Linked DNA regions of Homo sapiens. The protein of the gene in region 1 interacts with the protein of each later gene in a pairwise test. Each region holds a gene or a part of one and is shown on either strand. Other genes may lie near its edges.

Evidence for each region. Proteins that work in one complex are often made in the same cells at the same time.
Region 2: the proteins of TNIK (region 1) and PPM1E interact in a two-hybrid assay, tested with the Homo sapiens proteins (2 studies listed by BioGRID and IntAct).
Region 3: the proteins of TNIK (region 1) and GOLGA4 interact in a two-hybrid assay, tested with the Homo sapiens proteins (2 studies listed by BioGRID and IntAct).

Annotation. Positions count from the first base shown.
Region 1 is NC_000003.12:171,457,400-171,465,187, forward strand, and holds the start of TNIK (TRAF2 and NCK-interacting protein kinase), read right to left. Parts: upstream 3,007-7,788; 5' UTR 2,665-3,006; coding exon 2,608-2,664; intron 1,993-2,607; exon of another isoform or gene 1,819-1,992; intron 773-1,818; exon of another isoform or gene 547-772; intron 1-546. UniProt on the Homo sapiens protein: Serine/threonine kinase that acts as an essential activator of the Wnt signaling pathway. Recruited to promoters of Wnt target genes and required to activate their expression. May act by phosphorylating TCF4/TCF7L2.
Region 2 is NC_000017.11:58,751,121-58,758,876, reverse strand, and holds the start of PPM1E (protein phosphatase 1E), read right to left. Parts: upstream 3,024-7,756; 5' UTR 2,880-3,023; coding exon 2,416-2,879; intron 1-2,415. UniProt on the Homo sapiens protein: Protein phosphatase that inactivates multifunctional CaM kinases such as CAMK4 and CAMK2. Dephosphorylates and inactivates PAK. May play a role in the inhibition of actin fiber stress breakdown and in morphological changes driven by TNK2/CDC42.
Region 3 is NC_000003.12:37,358,262-37,365,293, reverse strand, and holds part of GOLGA4 (golgin subfamily A member 4), read right to left. Parts: intron 4,052-7,032; coding exon 4,022-4,051; 3' UTR 3,989-4,021; intron 1-3,988. UniProt on the Homo sapiens protein: Involved in vesicular trafficking at the Golgi apparatus level. May play a role in delivery of transport vesicles containing GPI-linked proteins from the trans-Golgi network through its interaction with MACF1. Involved in endosome-to-Golgi trafficking.

The DNA.
Region 1 (7,788 bases):
ATTAAAGAGCCACCGAAACAGCGAGGGACTGGTAAGTCTGCAGCAAATTCTCCCAGAAGCCACTGACCTTGGCTGCATTTCAGGGGTCAGGCATTCCCCAGGAGGGGCTCAGCAGGCAGACTTTACCAAGGGCTTAGGAACAAATGAGACATCTCATCTAGATGAGGCCACCTCTCCAAATGTGGCAAGGTGGAGATGATCTGCCCTCTGATTTGTGGAGATTACCTATGTGGCCTTTGGACCCACTCCAGCAGACACACCTCACCCACAAGACTGGTCAAAGACCCTGGCCCTCCAGGATATAACTGTCTCCACATCTGCATCTAAGTCTTCTAGCCAGCAGTTCCTGGTCCCCAAGCTAGCTGTTGCCCTCTCTGTTTCCACACCTCCCAGCAGGCAGAAAAACAGAAGCAGAGCCCTAAGCTGATAGCCCAGGCCACAAAGAGCAATTTCAGTGAATTGTGCAAAGATATATTTTCAAAATACAGATCACAAGAAAGCACATCCCAAGTGTGAACCGCAGTCGTCCGCCCAGTGGGCCCTCACCGGTTGCTCCCCTGCCTGCAGGCTCCGTGCTTGGTATCTCAGAAAACCTTCCCGAGGAAAAAGCCCATAAGGGACAAGTCCCGGCCCAACTTAAAATCACATCAGACTGCTTTCCAGTAGAGGAGCAAGGTCGAGATTCCGGCCCAGGGAAATCACCGCAAGCCCTGCGCATTGTTCAGACCCCTTCCCCCTTTGCCACTTCCCGCCCCCCACCCCGACCTCCGACCGATTCGCAGCACCCCACCCCCAGTCGGGGCCATCCATCCACCTGATTAACTCGCCGGCAGCAACTCCCAGCGTAGAAAGTAGGGCAAATGAACACACACAGTCGGTAAAGCAGGAAGCCACAGACCTGGCCAATGCACCCACCCTGTTACCAACCCCACCCCGCTGCGCAGGGGGCAGCCGGTTCTTGATGTGGCATTTCCACTCCAGGGAAATAGACAGCTTCCTGTAATAATGCATGAATGAGCTTTGGCTGCCCAACTATCAGAACAGCCCATTTCAAACGGCATCTCTGTTTCTTCTCAACTCCTTACTTGCCTTGCTGAAACCTCATCTCTTAGCCCAACAGATTAAGACGAAGAGAGAAAGACTTATTCAAAGAGATGTGGAGGAAAAGGTTTAATTAAGGAGACCAAAGAGAAAGTACCACTTTGATCACAAAGGTAGCACTTTAATATATCAGTGCAGATAGCGGCAATGTCAGAAGTACTAGGAATCCAGGTAAATGGCCCCAAGATTCAGCATCAATCTAACAATGTATTCCTCAGGAGGGCGTGTGAACTTCCATGCTTCATCCATCCTGGTGTCTCCCTGTAGAGAGCCACCATGAATTCCTTCTCATCCACCCTCCATACATCAAGTATATGCACTCGCTTTCTTTTTAATTTTATTTTTGGTTCGGGAGAGGAAGAAGCAGTCCTTAAATTGGTGTCCAATCCTTCTCAGACACCCGCTGCTGCCACCATCCCCACCCCTCACCCCCTTCCAGGCAGGCAGCATCTAATTAAAATGGCAAGAAAGCTCTGCCCCCTTCCCCAAAGGAGTGTGTTGGGATCGGGAGTTGGGGGTGGGGAAGCGTCGAAGCAGCACTTGGATTCCTGGTATTCTGATCTCAAAACAACAGCAAAATGGATTCTATATCAGTGATGTCTTAGTCAATACAATGAAACGGCGTCTGAGGTAATTCACGTGAAGGTAAACGCAAACCAGTGGGGCTGGGGGGAGGGAGGTGCTCTACAAAGGACTGGCCACAGACACGGGGAAAACACACACAGACACACACACACACACACTCGCACACACTCCAGGGAGTTCCGGTCTGATTGAGGAAAAGCAGAAAACACATCCCTTTCACCTGCTTAAGTTCAGCCATAAAACTGAAACGTTACAGCCACAAAGTCAGAAAGAACAGGCAGGGCTGAGTTAAAGCCATAAATAAAGGTGAGTGGCAGACTGGCATTTAAGGGAGCGCTGAGAGGGCGCCCGGGCGCGGGAGGTAGAAAAGGGGGAGGGGGAGGCAGTTGCCATCTACAAGACCAGCATAGCAATAACTGCCCCCTTGGAGCGGCAGGTTCGGCTTCGCGGGGACAGCCAGCCTCACAATGTCATCTTGCAGGTAGCTGGAAAACGTGAGGGGCCAGTGCCTTTATTCACGCTGGCATTCTTTTTGCAGAAGGGACAGTCGGGTCTCGCGCCTTGGCACCAGACAACTGCCCGGGGCGTGTACACACACACACACACACACACACACACGCACACACGCCTTTCATTTTAATGCTCTTACACCGGTATAAGATGAAACTGGCATAAGCTCTACGAGCCCTCGGGAGAGCCTAAGCCACGGCCAGAGGAAGACACGTACCGCACAGCCCCTGCCGTAGGGGCTCAGCCAGGAGCACCTCAGCAACCCCGAATCAAAACGGGAATCCAGGTTCCCTCCCCGACGCATTCTCCCGCTGCTGTCCCCCTGCCCCAGCCCCAGCCCCCAGTCCACGCACCGAGCCCATTCACCCTAACCCAAACCACTGGAAAGAAACCAGAAAACGTCCTGCTCACCCTCAGAGCCGAGAGATCTATTTCATCCAGGCTTCGAGCCGGGGAGTCGCTCGCCATGTCTACTTCTTCGCTGGAGAAATGGACCAAAACCACCCCGAAGCTTTTCCCTTGGAAATTCCACCTTGGTCTATTTCACTCGCGTCCTCATGCGGGTGTCGCGCCAGAGGCCCCGGGCCCAGCCTCCCCCGCCCACCCCAGCCCCACAGCGCCGGATCCCGATCCTCCGCGCGTCGGTCCGCCGGGTCCGGGAGCCCAGCCTGCGCGGATCTCCAAGCCCCGAGCAGCGGTGCGTGTGGGCTGAGCGCCCCGATCGGCTAAGGGCGCTGGGGCTGCGTGGGTGTATTTAAATGGGACATGCTTCTTTGCTTGTGCGTGGATGGCGGCTGCATTGGCTGTTATAATGAGACACATCAACTCCTCCACTCAGCAGGGGGAGGGTGGGGGTGGAGAACCACGCAGAACTGTCTATCACCGCTTCCTGGGAGGAGTGAAGGGGGAGTGGGGAGGCGGAGGAGGCGTGGTCTTGGACTGGGGAGAGGCCGCGCTTCCTGACCCGGTCCCTCTGCACCAGCGTGGAGGGGGGAGGGGCGCGCACCCTTTCCGCCCAGGCTTTTGCGGGCTCCTCGGGCCGAACCCGAAGGGGCTGTTCCTGAACCTTGACTTGTTATCATAGGGACCCAAGCTCTATTTTTGTGTGGCCAATTCGTGCACTGCAGCAAAATGGCCCTTCAGTCGCGTCTTGGGGTTTCTCCTCGGTTCAAATGCTCTCGCGCTGAGAAAAAGCCGGAGGAAAAAAAAGCGACACCCTCCCTCCCCCATTAATTATTTGTGGGGCCGGAGTAACGCGGGCTGGTGCAACCGGTGCATATAAGGACTTGTGTGCAAGGAAGGGGATCCGCCTCCAGGCGCGGAAAGAGTAGGGAAGAAGCGCACACGCACAGTGCACCCAGCTGGGCGCTTCGGCAGTTTGCAGCTGCGGCGGGGTCGGGTCCACCCGCGGTCCCCGGAATGCCGGACGGCTGATCCCGGGTGCTGGTCACTCGCCGATTCGGGGCTGGGAAGGTTTGCCAGAAGCGGGAAAGATGGGAGATCTGAGCGCTCTCTTGGCATCGCCACACCCAGGACTTGCTCGTGCCGCAATTCCCCACGGAAACAACCGAGTTGAAACGAGAAGCTTGCTCTCTGGGTGCAGTAGCTAGAAGGCTTCAGGTAACTCCAAAGCCAACACTGGGTGAGGCAACACACGCCGCCTCAGGACTCAGCATTTCTTTCAGGCTGCGTTTTCGTGGCAGACCTACCCAGATTGATGGAGAAAGTTTGGCTGGCGGATAAGAAGTAACGCGGAAGATGTGTACGTGAGAGCGATTTCACTTCACTCACTTTCTCATTTAAAGGTTGGATGTTTTACAGTGGTATACATGATTCTCCTTCTGTAATCAAGAGTGGGAAGTCGCTTCCCCCAATCCCCGCGCAGCCCTTCTTCTCCCGCCTTAGCCATGCAAAATACCTAGAAAGAAAACACTAAAACTGAACTTTTTTCCAAATACAGCAGTAGCTTTGAAAGCATTCTTTGCTCCTCTGTTAACAGCAGAATGTAATTCTGACCACTGCACTGATGGTTTCTTAATCATGCAGTATGAAGATCAGCTTCAAAATAAGTCTTATGAATGAATGAATGAAAGCCAGTGCAGTTAGTTCATCATGACTGCAGACATTAGAGGACTTTGAAACAACCTTTGGTGTACATTGTACTGTTTTTGTTACTGATATTGTATGTATTCATATGCATTGTGGATCATGCACCATGAAACTTGAAAATTGTTCCAACATCTCAATGGCCACAACAGTTTGGTAGCTTTTGCCTGTAAACGTTGTATGTAAACATTTGAACGTGTTATACTAAATTACTAAACTCATTTTTTACTAAAATCATCTGGTTCGACATAGTAAGTAACGTGCAGTAAGCCACCACGTCGAAATGAAAAAAAAAAAACAGATTATTTCCCATCATTGTCTTTGTTTTTTTCTCTTCTGTGTTCCTGTTTTTTTACCGTTCATCTAGACAACAGGTTAATGTATTGTCTCAGGGTTGAAAGAAGATAATTTAAGATCAAGTATTAAGATCTATAAACAACTATTTTTTTAAAACTGCAAACATAAGGAAATATGAGTTAAATATTTTTTCCATGGAAAGCCTTCGTTTTATACTCATGATTATATTTGAAACATCACAAACAGATCAACTTTTTTGACATTAGTGAGCTGTTTGGGCCACGAGGGTGCCAAGTTGGCATTCAGATTTAGTTTAGTTTTAGATGAGAAAGTTATAGATGCAGTATGATGCCAGGTGCTAAATGGAGGAGGGCTTCCTAAGAGCCTGAGAAGTTGATGAGACAGCCAGGGGAAGGCAGGGGTGTGGGCTGCAGGAAATACCATAAAAGGAGAGATTGCAGTATCAAAGGGACCTCCAACTGGTAAAGGAAGGTGAGAAGGAGGAACTTGAACTTTTTCCTTTTGGTCAAGTGTGTATCAAATTTCAGCTATTCCAGTATAAATTTCCTAATTTTTTCCTATGTCTCTGTATTGCCTGTACTATTTTACCACTTACTTAACATTTTTCTTTAAATCAACACTTTTTTCTTACACTTAATATAAAAGAAAACATAAATCACTACTCTAAATGGAAAGCCAACAACACTTGCTTTGAAAAAAAAAGGGGGGAGGAAACCATTAAAATAAATATAATGGAAAATAAAGAAGTATTATTAAATTCTAGCTAGCCATCAATTCCTGCTCTGGGCTTCTAGCCTAAGGCCTACTCTTAGTTTGTTAAAAGAGAGAATAGCAAATACCAGGAAAAACATTCAAGACTTGAGATTTTTTTCTTGATGTAATCTGAAGGATTAAGAGAACTGACACCATTTATGTGCAGTTTGAAAACCTGCCGAATAATACACTATGCTGTTTACATATGTATAAATATGTAGTAAACTATATAAAGCATGGATACAGGCAGTAAGGATACAGATTAACTTCAGGATAATGAGAAAAGAGGAAGAGGAAAAGGAGACTCCAACAATGATACCTAATTTTTTTGCTAAAGATTTCTGCCAGGCACGGTGGTGGCTCACACCTGTGATGCCAACATTTTGGGAGGACAGGTTGGGAGGATAGTTTGAGTCCAGGAGTTCGAGACCCGCCTGGGCAACTTGGTAGAACCCCATCTCTACAAAAAATACAAAAATTAGGTGGGCATAGTGGTACACCCCTGCAATCCCAGCTACTAGGGTGGCTGAGGTGGAAGAATTGCTTGAGTCCGGGAGGTTGAGGCTGCAGCAAGCCAAGATAAGCCACTGCACTCCAGCCTGGGCGACAGAGGGAGACCCTCTTTATAAAAATGAATAGAAAATTTGAATAATAAGTAATACTATGCTGCAGATATTTTTCTAAGCATTTGTTCTATCTGAATGTTTGTGTCTCCCAAAATTTATGTGTTGAAACCTAACCCCCATAGTGATAGTATTAAGAGGTGGAACCTTTAAGAGGTGATTAGATCATGAGGGCAGATCCTTCATGAACTGGATTAGTGCCCTGAGAAAAGAAGCTTGAGGGAGCCTGTTCGCCCTTCCACCACATGAAGATGCATAGAAGGGGCCATCTGTGAGAAAGGAGCCCTCAGCAGACTTCAAATCCGCTGATATCTTGATCTTGGACTTTCCGGCCGCAGAACTGTGAGCAATTCTGTTTCTGTTGTTTATAAATTACCTAGTCCAAGGCATTTAAGTAATTTAAGTAACATGGAGAATAAATCCAGAAGGCCCAATATTCATCTGATAAGGGATCTAGAGAATGGATGGAAGGAAATACTCAAAAAATGGTAGAAAATATTCCAGTATCTTGACTGGGCACGGTGGCTCACACCTGTAATCCCAGCACTTTGGGAGGCTGAGGAGGGCGGATCACCTGAGGTAGGGAGTTCAAGACCAGTCTCACCAACATGGAGAAACCCCGTCTCTACTAAAAATACAAAATTAGCCGGGTGTGGCAATGCATGCCTGTAATCCCAGCTACTAGGGAGGCTGAGGCAGGAGAATTGCTTGAACCCTGGAGGTGGAGGTTGTAGTGAGCCAAGATCGTGCCATTGCACTCCAGCCTGGGCAACAAGAATGAAAAAAAGAAAATATTCCAGTATCTTTAAGTAAAAAGCTCTCATTTAGCTCTGAGCCAAATGCATAGGTAAAAAATAACACACTTAAACACCTCACAGTGAGATTTCAGAGCATGAAGGATAAAAAGTAAATCTTAACTGGATTACCTTCTCATCAGCAACAATGGATGCTAATAGACAATGGAACAGTATTCTAAGGAAATCATTGTAATGGTGTTTTGTCTTGTTTTGTTTTGTTTTTGAGACACAGTCTCTCTCTGTCACCCAGACTGGAGTGTGTGGCTGGCTCATTGCAGGACCTCAGTGAGTTCAAGCTATCCTCCCACCTTAACTACCTTAACCCCACCACCACCCAATAACTGAGCTGGGACCACAAGTGCGTGCTGCCATGCCTGGCTAATTTTTTTTTTTTTTTTTTTTTTTTTTTTTAGAGCTGGAGTCTCAGTAAGTTTCCTTGGCTGGTCTCAAATTCCTGGGATTCCACCTCGGCTTCCCAAAATGTTGGAATTACAGGTGCAAGCCACCACGCCCAGCCTCTAAGGGAATTGTTTTTAACCTAGACTACCAAACTAAATTAGCACTTAAGAGAGGGTACAAAATAATGACACATATTTTCAGATATGTAAGAGTTGAGATTGCTGCCCATCCTTGAAATTACTTTTAGAGAATGTCTTCCACCAAAGAGTAAACTGAATCCAAAAACAAAGTGTGTGTTACAAAAGACAATGATAAACAAAGGTAGCAAACTCTGTTACCTGCTCAAAGCCATTCTTTCTTCCTTACTAGTAAAACACCGATTTTGACAATTTACCCTCCATGTGTGTAAAACATATAGATTCTCCCCAGCCCCATTCTATTCTCTCTCCTAATGATTGGTTTAGACATAGGCATATCATTCAACACTGACTACTGAGAAGTGCAGAGAAGTCTGGTAGGGCTTATAGATATGGTTTTCCTCCATCGGGCACCGTGGCTTACGCCTGTAATGCCAGCACTTTGGGAGGCCGAGGCGG
Region 2 (7,756 bases), on another chromosome or scaffold:
GATGGTCTCAAACAGGTGTTCCGCCCACCTCAGCCTCCCAAACTGCTAGGATTACAGGCATGAGCCACTGTGCCCGGCAAAAACTGTTTTTAAACCTGTTAAGGACCTTAAAGATACTTTACATGAACAAGCCAGCCATTTTATATCTGAATAAAAATACATTAACAACTTCTGTACAAAACACAATATAAATGATGAAATCTCTGATTTAAGCGGAAATATTTTCCAACTTTAATTTTGCTAGTTTTATTTCAAATCCAAACTTCTGTTCTCAACTAGATGGCCATTTTATCATTTCAGTTTTTTCTAGTTTATACCTATATCAAAATTAATCTTTTTTTTTTTTTTTGAGACGGAGTCTTGCTCTGTCACCCAGGCTGGAGTGCACTGGCACAATCTCAGCTCACTGCAACCTCTGCCTCTCGGGTTCAAGCGATTCTCCTGCCTCAGCCTCCTGAGTATCTGGGATTACAGGCGCGCGACACCACGCCCAGCTAATTTTTGTATTTTTAGTAGAGACGCAGTTTCACCACGTTGGTCAGGCTGGTCTCGAACTCCTGACCTCATGATCTGCCACCCCGGCCTCCCAAAGAGCTGGGATTACGGGAGTGAGCTACCGCTCCTGGCCGCTTCTATATGAAAAAACACACATCTTCTTGCCATCATCTTTAAATAAGTTAAAAAAAAAAAACCTTCTTACATGGCAAATGTTCAGGGTTGTACTAAAATAATGACCTTATTTGGACACTTTCTAAAGTTTGAATTGGTTTAATTCTGCAAACTGCATTTGTAAAGGTAAGAATTAACTGTCAAGATAGAGCCAGTCTGCTGCTAAGATAAATTCCCTTAATAAACATTTCCATTTTATTTTAAGCAGGGAGCTTTATCTTTAAATACTGTAAAAAATTACATCTCAGAAGCCCTTGTCTATGATAGTTCACAAAGACCAGATATACTCTAAAATGTTAATACTGTTTATCTCTGGGTGGTGGTATTACACGCCATTTTATATTTTACGTTTCTCAAAAAGCATCATTACCTTGCTAATTGACGGTAATACTGTAATTGAACAGTATTTTAAAATTAAATTTTAGATAGCTTATATTATGAAATACCAACACAGTCCACTTCTATGGAAGATTTGTTAAATGATTTTCCCCTATTGATAAACTGCTGCTTTAACAGGAGAATGATCTGATCAGGTGTCTATTAGCTTGGATGAAGACAAAACAGGTTTACTTTCCAGGCCCTTCTTTTCTTTAGGCTTTTGAGAAAATCCCAAAAGTGAGTTTGAACTTAATTACAGCGAATCTTGCAGTAGTAAACTTTTTGGGTGGCCAGAGTAACACCTTTCATTACAACTATCAGCTGAATGGCAAAAGACTTCCCAGGTTTACCAATGTTTTCAGAGACTTACTAGTATTCTCCTCTGTCATTATTTCGGAACAATTCCATTGAGAAACGCAATTGTAAACCGTTTCTATTTCAGGCCTATAAAAACCAGAACTGGGATGAAAGGCAAAGCCTTGACCTTTCTATTTTAGACTTTCATCTGTGTAGCTAAGCCATCTGCTTTCTCCCCACCCCATCCCATCTACTTAATGGACTGAAAATACTGCACCTAATTGCAATTTAATCAAAACAGCCTGACTTTTCCACTTTAATGAATTATGGCTCTTTCACCCGAAGGCTTGCTTGCAAAATTTTGCTTACCCTTCCCTCTCAATTCCTTCCCACTTCCCTCAATTATGGAATGTCAAATGTCTAAACTAAGAGACTAGGCTTCCCTGTGTGAAAACATCTAAAAAGCCCTTCACTTTCAACACTGAGCACCTGACGGAAAATCTACTCCATTCTCTCATCTGGATACGGGGCCGGTATAACCATCATTGTTGCAGTTACGCAGGAGGCACCTCGCAGCTCAGTCTAGAAAGGAGTCGCGTCTCTGCCGCCAAACAACAAGGCACTCAGCCCGGGAAAAGACAGACTGGGGTGGGAGGAAACCTCCCGGAGAAAGAAGGGATCTGGGAAGAAGAGGGAGCTCAAGCCTGGGAGGAAGGACCTTTCCAGGCAGGAAAGGGAAAGGTTGCGTGAAGTGGAGCTAGAAGCTGGGGGCCGAGGTGAAAGGGGATGAGGGGCCCGGGCCCGGCGGGAGGGCGCCGGGGCTCAGGAGAGCGGCTTCAAGGCCGGGTAGGAGGCGTGGGGGCCGAGGCGGGCGTGGGGGCCGAGGCGGGCGTGGGCAGCTCTCAGCCGACCGCCCGGGTCCGAGCAGCGGGGGCGCTTTCAGCGGCGGCAGGCGCGGGTGCGGGGGAGAGGAGCAGAAAAGAGAGCAGTTTGAGGGGCCGAGGGAGCCGCGTCCGAGGCCGGCGCGGTGGGGACCGCGGGCCCACCACCAGCCAAGCCCAGCTACTTAACTATTTGTAGAGCTGCTGCAGGCACAGGTCCAGGCTTTCGCCCTCCACCTCCTCGCGGGTGATGCGCTCTGACAGCGGTCGCGGGAGCGGGGGCAAAGGCGGCAGCTGGGGCGGCGGCGGCGGCACGGCCGAGTGCCCCGGGGCTGCCGCCGCCGTCGCCGCGCCCTCCTCCTCCTCCTCACCCTCAACCGCCGCCTCCTCCTCGGGCTCCGGGTCTTGCTCCTGGTCCCCCTCCTCCGTCGCGGCTACCGTGGCCGCCTCCTCCCCGGGTTCCTCTACCGAAGCCTCGGCCGCCTCAGCTTCTACCAGTTCAGGTTCGGGCTCGGGCTCGGACTCGGGTTCGGGTTCGGGTTCGGGTTCGGGTTCCGGCTCCGGCTCGCCGCCGCCGCACGGTCCGCGAAACTCGCCCAGGAATAGCTCCAGGAAGCGCCGGTAAGTTTTCTCCTCAGGGATGCAGCCGGCCATCGCTGCTCATGCCCCAGGGCAGACCGGGAAAGGGGTTGGGGGAAGCCCAGGAAGGGTAAGGGGCTGCTTTTGAGCCTAGGGCTCCGGCAAGGGCGGTTAACGGCCGCACCGGCACGAGCGATCAGCACTAGGTTGCCTGGAGAGGGCTCCCGCAGGCGTGCGCGCCGCCGAGCACCGACGTGCGCGGCCCGGGGGCGGAGCGCGCCGCCCCTCTCGGATCTGGAGGGAAAGTTGGTGGCGGGCGCGCGCAGGGTCCAGCGGCGGCCCACCCTTTATTCCTACGGAGAGCTCAGCCCACGCTGCCTAGAGACTGTCGCCATGGCAACCGGTTCTAATTAAGCATTGCAGGGTCCCTCCCGTCGAGTCCGCGGAGTCTAAAGGACACTCCACTCGCCCGCTCTCCAACTCTGAATGTCTTTATTGGTTGGATACCCTACCCTCACGTGGTTAAGAGTGAGCTAAGACATCTCCAAGTCTAGCTGTTGGTTCCCACTTGGGTTGCTTGGATCCCAATTGGATGTACTTCCATTTCCTTATCTGTTCCTTGCCTTAGCGTATGTTTTGAAAGATACCACACTGTGAACACCTTTTGTTGCAGTCTTTGAATAAGTAGTTTTCAGGCAGAGGGAGCTTCAAATACCTACCAAGTGATAAGTTCCTTTGCATAGGTTCTCTCTCACTTGATTCTGTGAAGAAAGTGGTGTTACTCTCATTTCTTAAAAGGAAACTGAAAATTATGATATTAATGGTAATTTACTTGTTTCAAGGTCTCCAAACTTCCAGCCTTGGCGTTGGAGAACTCAGGTCGTTCAGTCGCCAAAGCTTTCCGAAAGTGCATTTTTCCTTAACTCAACTCTGTCTCCGGAGATTCAATAGTGCAATTGTCTGTATAACACCTTATTTCTATTGGGCTTCATAGTTTACACATTGATTTCACCCTTTTAATTCTTACCACAGTCCCTTGAGGTATAGGACGTTACCGTTATGATTTTTTTTTTTTTGAGACAATCTCGCTCTTGTCACCCAGGCTGGAGTGCAGTGGCGCGATCTCAGCTCACTGCAACCTCCGCCTCTCGGGTTCAAGTGATTCTCCTGCGTCAGCCTCCCAAGTAGCTGGGATTACAGGGGCCTGCCACCACCCCCGGCTAACTTTTGTATTTTTAGTAGAGACGGGGTTTCACCATATTGGCCAGGCTGGTCTCAAACTCCTGACCTCAGGTGATCTGCCTGCCTCAGCCTCCCAAAGTGCTGGGATTACAGGTGTGACCCACCACGCCGGCCAATTATTCCATTTTATAGGTGAGAAAACAGCCTTAAAGACATGGTGACTTTGCTCAAGGTCACATGCAAGGGATGCAACAAGGACTCAATCCAGGTCTTTTCACTGGATTCACCCACTTCAATGGATTTTACCCATTAGTTTTCAGGCAACCAAGACTCCCCTCTTTAGTCTCTGCATAATGCATATTATACTTCATTATATAATATGTATTTTTTCTTTTCTCTTTCTTTTTTTTTTGAGACGGAGTTTTGCTCTTGTTGCCCAGGCTGTAGTGCAATGGCAGGATCTCGGCTCACTGCAACCTCTGCCTCCTGGGTTCAAGCGATTCTCCTGTCTCACCCTCCTGAGTAGCTGGGATTACAGGCATGTGCCACCACGCCCGGCTAATTTTTTTGTCTTTTTAGTAGAGACAGGGTTTCACCATGTTGGTCAGGTTGGTCTCGAACTCCTGATGTCAGATGATCCGCCTACCTTGGCCTCCCAAAGTGCTGGGATTACAGGCGTGAGCCACCGTGCCCGGCCAATAATATGTATTTTTTCTACATTTTGTTTGCTCTTCTTCCCCATCCCCCCAAGTCTCTTTTTTTCTTTCTTGGGTTGGAATTGAAATGACTTTAAGTGATTCTAATTTTCTTACCAAACTACACACAAACCTATTATTTTTAAGCCTTACTGAAGGAGTGGGAGAGAAAGAAGCTGTGTTGTTATACAGCTGTATAGATGATAGCATCATTACTGCAAACTGCCATGTCCATGGCAACATATAATTCAGCAAAAACATAGTGATTCTTTCTCTACTTTGAAAAACATGTTCTCACAAATTATCCACCCCATCCTCTCCATGTATTGTTTCTGGGTTTCAGTTGGATTTAGGGTCTGAAATATCGTTTCCAGTTATTAATGGCAGAAGAGGGAGTCTCTCTGCCAACTGTTTTCATATAATACTGTATTCTAAATCCCTGACCTGATACTGTTATTTTAAGATTAAGTGGGTTGAGCTCACTAATGTACATTATGGCATCATGTAAAACAGAGTTCCTCTCCTAGCTTGAGATTAAATAATACATGATAGAAAGAATATAGTGAATAATTGCCTTGAGTCCTCTATATTTTTTTCCCAAAGGTAAATGGAAAGATCTAATAAATCTGTTTCCAGAAATGCTGAATGTATTTATATGTGTTTTGTTTAAAACATAACCAGCGTAGAGCAACTTCTCTATGAGGTGCCAAGAAAGTCTTTAAACTCCTCATTTGTCTTTGTTTTCAATCCACCTGTTCATTTCCATTTCAGAATGTCTAGAAAAGATTGACAAAACTTTTTAGGCTGCAAACCTAAATGTCCACAATTTTACATTTCAACAATTGTTTAATATCTCAGAATTTGACATAATGACATTTAGTTCAAGAGTACTTAGCTGTCAACTGTAACAATTCATATCTACGCCTTCCTACTTTGTAACATAGTTGCCTCCCTCATTTGTGACATTAATTTATGACTCAGCCCACATTTCAAAGGAAAGTGATATATGTTGGGGAAACAATACTACTAAAAGAAAAAGCCCACACCTCTACATTACTATAAGTGAGAGGCGTGTTTGCTTATATTAATAAAGATATTCCTTCACAAAGATCAATATGGATCCTATTGCATCCATTTGACAAAGTAGCTTTGCCAGAAGGTAGCTGACAGCAAGTGCTGAGATCTCAGAGCAGCTGTGTAGGATGATTTTGCCATTGTCAAGAAGTCTTTAGTAATTATTTTGCATTAGTTTGCTCTCTTTTTCAACTCCTTTCTTATTACACTTTTCTAATCCCCTTGCATACTATCTATTAAAAAATATTGAGGGCTGGGCATGGTGGCTCACGCCTGTAATCCCAGCACTTTGTGAGGCTGTGATAGCTTGAACTCAAGAGTTCAAGACCAGCCTGGGCAACAAAGAAAAACCCTGTCCCTAAAATATATTTTTTAAAAAGGAGGCCAGGCGCGGTGGCTCATGCCTGTAATCCCAGCACTTTGGGAGGCCGAGGCGGGCGGATCACGAGGTCAGGAGATCGAGACCATCCTGGCTAACACGGAGAAACCCCATCTCTACTAAAAATACAAAAAATTAGCCGGGCGTGGTGGCGGGCGCCTGTAGTCCCAGCTACTTGGGAGGCTGAGGCAGGAGAATGGCGTGAACCCGGGAGGCGGAGCTTGCAGTGAGCCAAGATCGCGCCACTGCACTCCAGTCTGGGTGACGGAGCGAGACTCCGTCTCAGAAAAAAAATAAATAAATAAAAAATAAAAAGGAAAAAAAATATTGTTATGAAAAGTTTAACGTATTTTTAAGGTATCAAATTTTTAAAGTTTTTCTCATAAAAATTATTCTCCCTCTAACCCTTTGCTCTTTGGAGGAAATGTACAATGTCCTTTTGTGGACATTCATAGTAATGACATTTATAAGGTTAAAAAGAATTGTTGAGTTTGGCAGTTTCTTACATGACCCAGCAATTCCTCTCCCAGGTATTTTATTCATGAGAAATAAAACATGTCCACCAAACACACATGCACTTGCACACACCCCAAACACAAAAAAACTTGTACATAACTGTTCACATAAGTTTCATTCATAACAGCTCAAACCTGGAAGCAACCCAGATGTCCATCAACAAATGAACAGATAAAGTAGTGTATTCATACAATGGAATACTACTCAGCAATAAAAATAAATGAACTGCTGATAAACACAACATGGATGAATTTCAAAAATATACTGAGCCAAAAAAAAAAATCCAGGCACAAAAGAGTACATAATATATTTCCATTTGTATAAAATTCCCAAACAGGCAAAATTAACCTATATAGTGAGAGAAAGCAGATTCCTGGTGGCCTGGGACTGGGATGGGGTGGGAGATTTGTAGCAAAGGAGTAAGCAGGAACTTTGTGAAGTGATTAAAATGTTCTGTATCTTGACTGATTGGTCATATGGGTGTACTCATTTGCCAAAAATTATTGCCAGGCAGGGTGGCATGTGCTTATAGTCCCAGCTACTCTGGAGGCTGAGGCAAGAGGATCGTTTGAGCCTAGGAGTTCAAGGCTACAGTGTAATATGATTGCACCTGTGAATAGCCACTGCACTCCAGCCTGGGCAACATAGCAGAATCCATCTCAAAAAAAAAATTATCCAAGTCTGCATTTAAAATAAGTATATAAATTGTATATAAATTGTATATAAATTGTATATAAATTACACCTCAATAAAGTTGATTTTTAAAGTTAAAAAGAATTGATTACTGTGTCAGTCCTTGTCCATTTTGCCCTCATACCTATTCTTTCTCCTCCTTTGCCCTGCTCTGTATTGTAGGAGGGCTGACCCTTTCAGGCTGTATTCACTAGGCTACTGTGACAGCTGACTTTCACCTGGGATTTGTCCAGTGGTAGGCACTGACAAGAAATTGGAAGAAGGGAGGAAAGAAGAAAAGCCCTGTTCCCTAGCTCAGTCCTGAGGCCTGATGCATTTCCTTTGTAGCTTTCCTCCCCATGAATATGTTCACTGGGATTCTCTAGCTTTTGCCAGTGACCCTATCCCCTCAGCTCCAGAACAACATCTTCCCC
Region 3 (7,032 bases), about 130 Mb from region 1:
CTGCCTCAAAAAAACAATAAAAAATAAAGATGAGAAAGAGCTCTTTCCTCTTATCCAGTGTGCTGATTATTCTACAAATTGCAATTCTCCCAGCATGACATAATAGCAAAAGACAAACAGCATTTTGGTGTGGAAATTTATGTCTCATCTGGAATTAAGAAATTTAATTTAAAAATTAAAAACAGCCTGGGCAACATAGTGAGATCCCATTGCTACAAAAAATAGAAAAAATTAGACAGGCATGATGGTGTGTGTCTGTAGTCCCAGCTACTCAGGAGGTTGAGGCAGGAGGATCGCTTGAGCCTGGGAAGTCAAGGCTGCAGTGAGCTGACTGTACCACTGCACTCCAGGCTTGGCGACAGTGACACCTTGTCTCAAAAAATAAATTAATTAGAAATGCTGGCTGGGCATGGTGGCTTATGCCTATAATCCCAGCACTTTTGGGAGACCAGGGTCAGAGGACTGCTTGAGCCCAGGAGTTCAAGACCAGCCTGGGCAACATGGCAAGACCCTGTATCTACAAACTTTTTTTTAAAAAAAATAGCTAGGTGTGGTGGCATGTGTCTGTGGTCCCAGCTACTCAGAAGGCTGAGGCGGGAGGATTCCTTGAGCCCAGGAGGTCAAGGCTGCAGTGAACTGTGTTCACGCCACTGCACTCTAGGCTGGTGTGACCATGCTGGGGGGCAAAAAAAAAAAAAAAAGCTATGACATAGCCAAAGTCTTCCTCATAATGTTTCTCAAATGAAAATGCTGGCCAGGAGCAGTGGCTCACGCCTGTAATCCCAGCACTATGGGAGGCCAAGGCAGGTGGATCACCTGAGGTCAGGAGTTCGAGACCAGCCTGGCCAACATGGTGAAACCCGGTCTCTACTAAAAATACAAAAAATAAGCTGGGTGTGGTGGCGGGCACCTGTAACCCCAGCTACTCAGGAGGCTGAGGCAGGAGAATCACTTGAGCCTGGGAGGTGGAGGTTGCAGTGAGCCGAGATTGCGCCACTGCACTCTAGCCTGGGCAACAAGAGTGAAACTCCGTCTCAAATATAAAAAAAAGAAAAGGAAAAGAAAATGCTAAAACCAGTAGTCACATCAAGATATGAGTTTAAAATCCCATAAAAATAAATTACCAAGTAAGATTAATAGAGGCAAACTTTCCATATATATTAAGTGGATAGGGGGAGTTTTAGTCTTCTGAATTTGTAAATGAACAAATATTTCACTACTCATAATGTACTACTAATAGTATATTATTTATAAAACTAGTTCAATAATCATGTTGGTCCTAGGAACCTAAAGAAGACACCAACAAGATCTTCTGTTATACGTAAATTCCTTGTCAGTTTTTATTTTGAAACCGTAGCTTGATCTGTTGTGGGAAACAAAATTCAAGATCAGTTCAACAATGCTGCATCATTAAAAACAAAAAAGCTAGACGTTTTCTAGTTTAAAAAAGACTAGGAAAATATGACCACTAAATGCAATGTGAAATCTCAAGTGGATCCTGGATTCTAAAAAATTATGGGAGACATTATTTGGAAAACTGTAAAAAACTGAGTATTATGTACTATATATTAGTATTAGCTAATATTAAACTTCCTGAGTGTAATAACTGTACTGTATGTAGAAAAATGTCCTTGTTCTTAAAGATACATGCTAAAGTACTTAGTTTATGTTTACAATTGTCAAATGCTTGCAAGCATGTCGGCAAGTAATTGCCAAATGTTACAAATGGGGAATAATATAAATGGAGAGAGAACAAGAGTGACAGCAAGTCAGAAAATCTGGCCAAACATTACTAGGTGAAGGGTATATGGGTGTTCATTGTACTATTTTTGCAAATCTTATGTCTGAAATGTTTCAAACTAAAAGTTGAGGAGACAATCAATTAATCAATTAATAGAAATGCTGCACAATATACATTTCCAGTGATAATTGATATTCAGCTGCAATAATAACAAGTACAATGCAGTATTATTTTAAAAGGAAAACATTAAGACTTAATGGGTTAGCTATAGAATTTACAGTTTTTCAATGTTCACATTTATTATCAAAGTAACCTAATAAAACCATGCATTGTACTGCCAGCCATTGTAATGTGGATGACAAAAATAAGACAGTTCTGGATAATCGCTAAGGCAAATCAAATAATATATATTAAAATCAAAAGGAGGCTCAAATGAAGGCACAGAAGATTTTTAAAGATAAAAGCTTAGAGGGCCAGGCACAGTGGCTCACGCCTGTAATCCCAGCACTTTGGGAGGCCAAGGTGGGCAGATCATGAGGTCAGGAGATCGAGACTATCCTGAATAACACGGTGAAACCCTGTCTCTACTAAAAATACAAAAAATTAGCTGGGCATGGTGGCGGGTACCTGTAGTCCCAGCTACTCAGGAGGCTGAGGGAGGAGAATGGTGTGAACCCAGGAGGCGGGGCTTGCAGTGAGCCAAAAACACGCCACTGCACTCTAGCCTGGGTGACAGAGCGAGACTCCGTCTCAAAAAAAAAAAAAAAAAAAAGCTTAGAGGCTGAGGTAGGAAGATCGCTTGAGCCCAGGAGTTCGAGACCAGCCTATGCAAGACCATCACTACAAAATAAAATAAAATAAAAAAATAGGTGCCTTAGAGTCCCAGTTATTTGGGAGGCTGAGGTGGGAGGATCCCTTGAGCCCAGGAGCTGACACAGGAATGAACTATGATCACACTACTGCCCTCCAGCCAGGGTGATAAAGGCTTTACTTATTTTTTAAAAAAAAATAAATAAGGCCGGGCGCGGCTCACGCCTGTAATCCCAGCACTTTGGGAGGCCGAGGCGGGCGGATCACGAGGTCAGGAGATCGAGACCATCCTGGCTAAAACGGTGAAACCCCGTCTCTACTAAAAAAAAATACAAAAAATTAGCCGGGCGTAGTGGCGGGCGCCTGTAGTCCCAGCTACTTGGGAGGCTGAGGCAGGAGAATGGCGTGAACCCGGGAGGCGGAGCTTGCAGTGAGCCGAGATCCCGCCACTGCACTCCAGCCTGGGCGACAGAGCGAGACTCCGTCTCAAAAAAAAAAAAAATAATAAATAAATAAATAAATAAATAAATAAATAAATAAATAAAAGCTTAAAAGAACGGAGAAATGTTGTATCTTGCCATTTTAAACCTTGATACTATTATTAGCTGGATATTAACAATCACTGAGAGTATTTATTTTAATTATAGTGAAGCCCTACTAATTGTGATCTGTTTTTGATTTTGTGAAAATTCTAGCAAAGGCTGAGGTAAAGATGTATGGTACATTTTCAGAGGGTGCTAAATCAACCTAATAGCATGAAAAATACATAGAGATGAGGGGAGAGGGTTTAAATGATGAAGACAGTCAACTGCGTTGAAACATTTCATATGCCTGCATTTCACTGTAATATGTTAATCAGGAAGAATCACATTCAATTAAAGTAGGCTGCCTAACGGTCTCCTCAGGACAAATGTGTTGTCTTGTGTTAAACTGTCTGATTTCAGGAAGTAATGAAGCTATATTTTAAAATTGATCTTACTAGTTTTCATTATTTCTGACTGGCCTTGACTCAGGCTTTACAGGATTTTGAATTCTCACGGAATATACCACTTCATTTTTATCTAGAAAATGATTTTTCATTTCTCTCTCACAATCATAATTTCAAAGATCATTCTTGGAAAATTAAAAACAAAAGGGAAAATAAGTTACATAAATACTTTTTTGGATTCTTTAACAAAATTTCAAAGAGCAATTTTCAAACTTTCAATTACTCTTTAAAGAAATGAAATTTCCTAAAATTATATAACTCTTACTGGTGGTAGTAATTTTTAACTATTATCGATCCATATAACAGAATGAACAGAAAATACTTATATTAACCCATAGCATAATCATATATTTATTAAACAAGAGCAAAAGAATTCCAGCAAAATGGTTAGTATCAGGCAACACATTTGATTTTTGCACAAAAGACACAAGACATTGTTCTTCACTCACCACATGTTAACTAAGCACAGACTGATGGTTTACTCAGAAGATACCACTGCGAGGTGAAGTAAACTACAAAGCCAGGAAGAAAAAAAGCTTATTGGGTTAGTTTTAAGACTTAATATAACACATAGATTGTATGTGTATATGAAGTTCATAGGATTACAGACTGTACTTAAATTTTTCTCAAATCTCCCCAAATCAAGGGTGTACAGGCAAGGAATAAGGAATCTGTAATACCTCCCCCCATATCCTAGGTAAATATAATATTATGTAGCTGAGATTTTACTTGCAACTTTCATTTGAAGACTTAAACAACGTAATGAAAGGTGTACTGCATATTTTAAGTACATATTTACCAGCTGAATTACGGGGCAATTATTTGCTTTACAAAAGGATCTCTTTCATAATTCCATGAAAGTACACATTAAAATTTGATTTACATAATCTCAATTTACCCTAAAAAGTTTTCGGGAAAATGATGATGAATTTGAAGAGCCATGTGTCTATATGTTGAATTCTCATTCCTAATGTGTCAATTTGATCACTGAATAACTCTCTTGTAATTCAACAATGTATCAGAAATGGTTTCAGGAATGGTGACCCAAACTGAAATTTCAATTTAAGGAAACTCAATCTCAAATATAGTTTTTACTGTGACAAACCTTAAATAAATTCTATGCCCCATTTTAAGATGGTCATTGTCCAAAATCATTAATTACCTTCACGGTGATTTAAAATGGCAGCATTAAAAACAAAGATTGCTTATAAAATCTGAGTCTATTCTTGGATAGTGTGGCCAACCTCAGAAACATCATTTTATTTATCTTTCATATTTAAAGTTAGTAAAAAGCAGCAAAACCAAAAGACAAGCTAGAAAATAATATGTGCAACACACACAACACAATGAGGTTAATATCCTCTCTGGCAGAAGTATACAAAATCCATGTATATGGATGTTCCCTATGTCTATGCTTGTAAAGTACTGAAAATCTTGAAAACATAAGTAAATGGAATGAGGAGGAAACTGGTGAACTAAACTGTAGGACATCCATATAATCATACAATCAGCCATTGAAAAGAATGAGACCAATTTGTAATAAGGTGGAATAATATAAAAATATATTAAGTGAAAAAAGCAAGCCATTGCATACTCTCATTTTTATAAAATAAAATGAATGATAAAGGAGTAACTATAAATATGTAATTACATGGCTTAGAAAACATGGAGATATTCCCCAAACTGTTCACAGAGATGATACTGGCATAGCAGAAGTAGTCTGGAGGCTGAAGATCATGAGGGACTCCCTTTCTATGTTTCTGGCTTATAATATTTTTTCCAGTGATCACGTATTACCTTATTCTACCAACACCAGAATCAAAACCAATCTCAAGAAAACAAATATGTATTTGACATGTGCAATATTTTCTATAATGTGTCAGTTTTATTTGTATGTGTTTCCTGAACCCACCTTGCATGCATCTTCTGAGCCCATGCAGAGGGAAAGGGTAAACCTCGTGTGGGAATGGAAAACTTTTGTACCTAGCAATGCTGAAAAGTTCTGATTTTATTAATTCGGAGGAAATTTTGAAAATTCCAACAGGGGAAGAAAATGAGACGTTAAGAGAACACAAGACTGGTCCAGGGCAAGGACTGATGAAGAACTATATACACCACCAAGAATCAGTGTGAAAGCAAAGTTGAAGGAGAGTCAACAGAAGAGCAATTGAAAAAGATGACTAGAATGGACAGAGAACACAAACAAGCCAACCTTCTCCATCAAAGAGAAATTTTCTTTAATGGAGTCATCAAGAAAACAGTGATGTCCATTTATGTCATTACATTTTGCTAGCACTCTAAAGAGAAAAATGTCTAAGAAAACTTTTAAAGAGGGGTTTCCATATAACAAAGGAATCTCAATTCTGAGATGCTTGTTACCCAATTACAATAAACTTTCCTAATGAAATTATCTTAAATAATGTAATAATACTCTCATTTTAAAAAAAATCAGGGTGTACTTCTAGGGCAGTTTTATTCAATAAAAACACTAACAATTAGATGAGCCAAGAACTTATGTATTCACTCTTGCCCATATTGTGCTACTCGAATATCCAGTCTACTCTGGCCATCTAAGCTACCTAAACCATCATAAAATGAAGTAGCAAGGTATAGTAAACTAAAAATTGAGAGGAGGGAAAAAAAGCTGTTCTAGGAAAAACAGAGATATGTGCATTTGGTATGTGCATTTTGTTTTAACTTCTGCCTGCTGTTTAGAAGGCAATTCTTTTTCCTACTTGAAACAAATATAAAACAAGATTTTATACTTTGTGGGGAAAGAAACCTTAGAGATAGTATAATCCAACAATCTCATTTTACCAATGAGGGTCAAAAATATGAAAACAGTTTGCGCTAAGTTATACAGCAGTCAAACCATTGAGATCTAGGCTCTCATCCCAGCAATGTCGCATGTCGCTGGCACTCTAAGGTACCGAAGTTGGAGATGGGGGCATTTTGTGGGCTGGTATCACCGTGTGACTTGACCCTCCTACTGAGGTCTTTAATGGTTTTTCTTATACACATCAATGATTTACCTTTCCAGTCTCTTTTTCCAGAAAAGACTAGTTCTACACATTGCTAAAAGGAGGCTAAATAATTATCACCACCATCCCTACATTATCACTCAGCGCAGGCAACTGTACTCTGGTTCCTGGACAATCCTAACAAGATTATGTTAGTCTTGTGAAGAAAAGAGGCTCTGAGAATTGCCTGAGTTTCCACAGCAAGTCAACAAAGGACTAAGATTCCTTCCCTATACACCAAGACCCTCAAATAAACCAGACTGTAATTATGCTCTGTAATTTAACCTTACTTAACAGATAGTGATTTCTCATCTATAAAATCTACTCGAGACTAGGTTAAACTCTGAAAACAGTAATAACTTGTATCCTGTAATGAGGTTTTTTAAATAAAGAGTATAAAACTCACTGAAGAGAGAGAAGTATAGTAAAGATAAGATATATTGAAAAGTACCTCACCAGCAGTCATAGAAAGC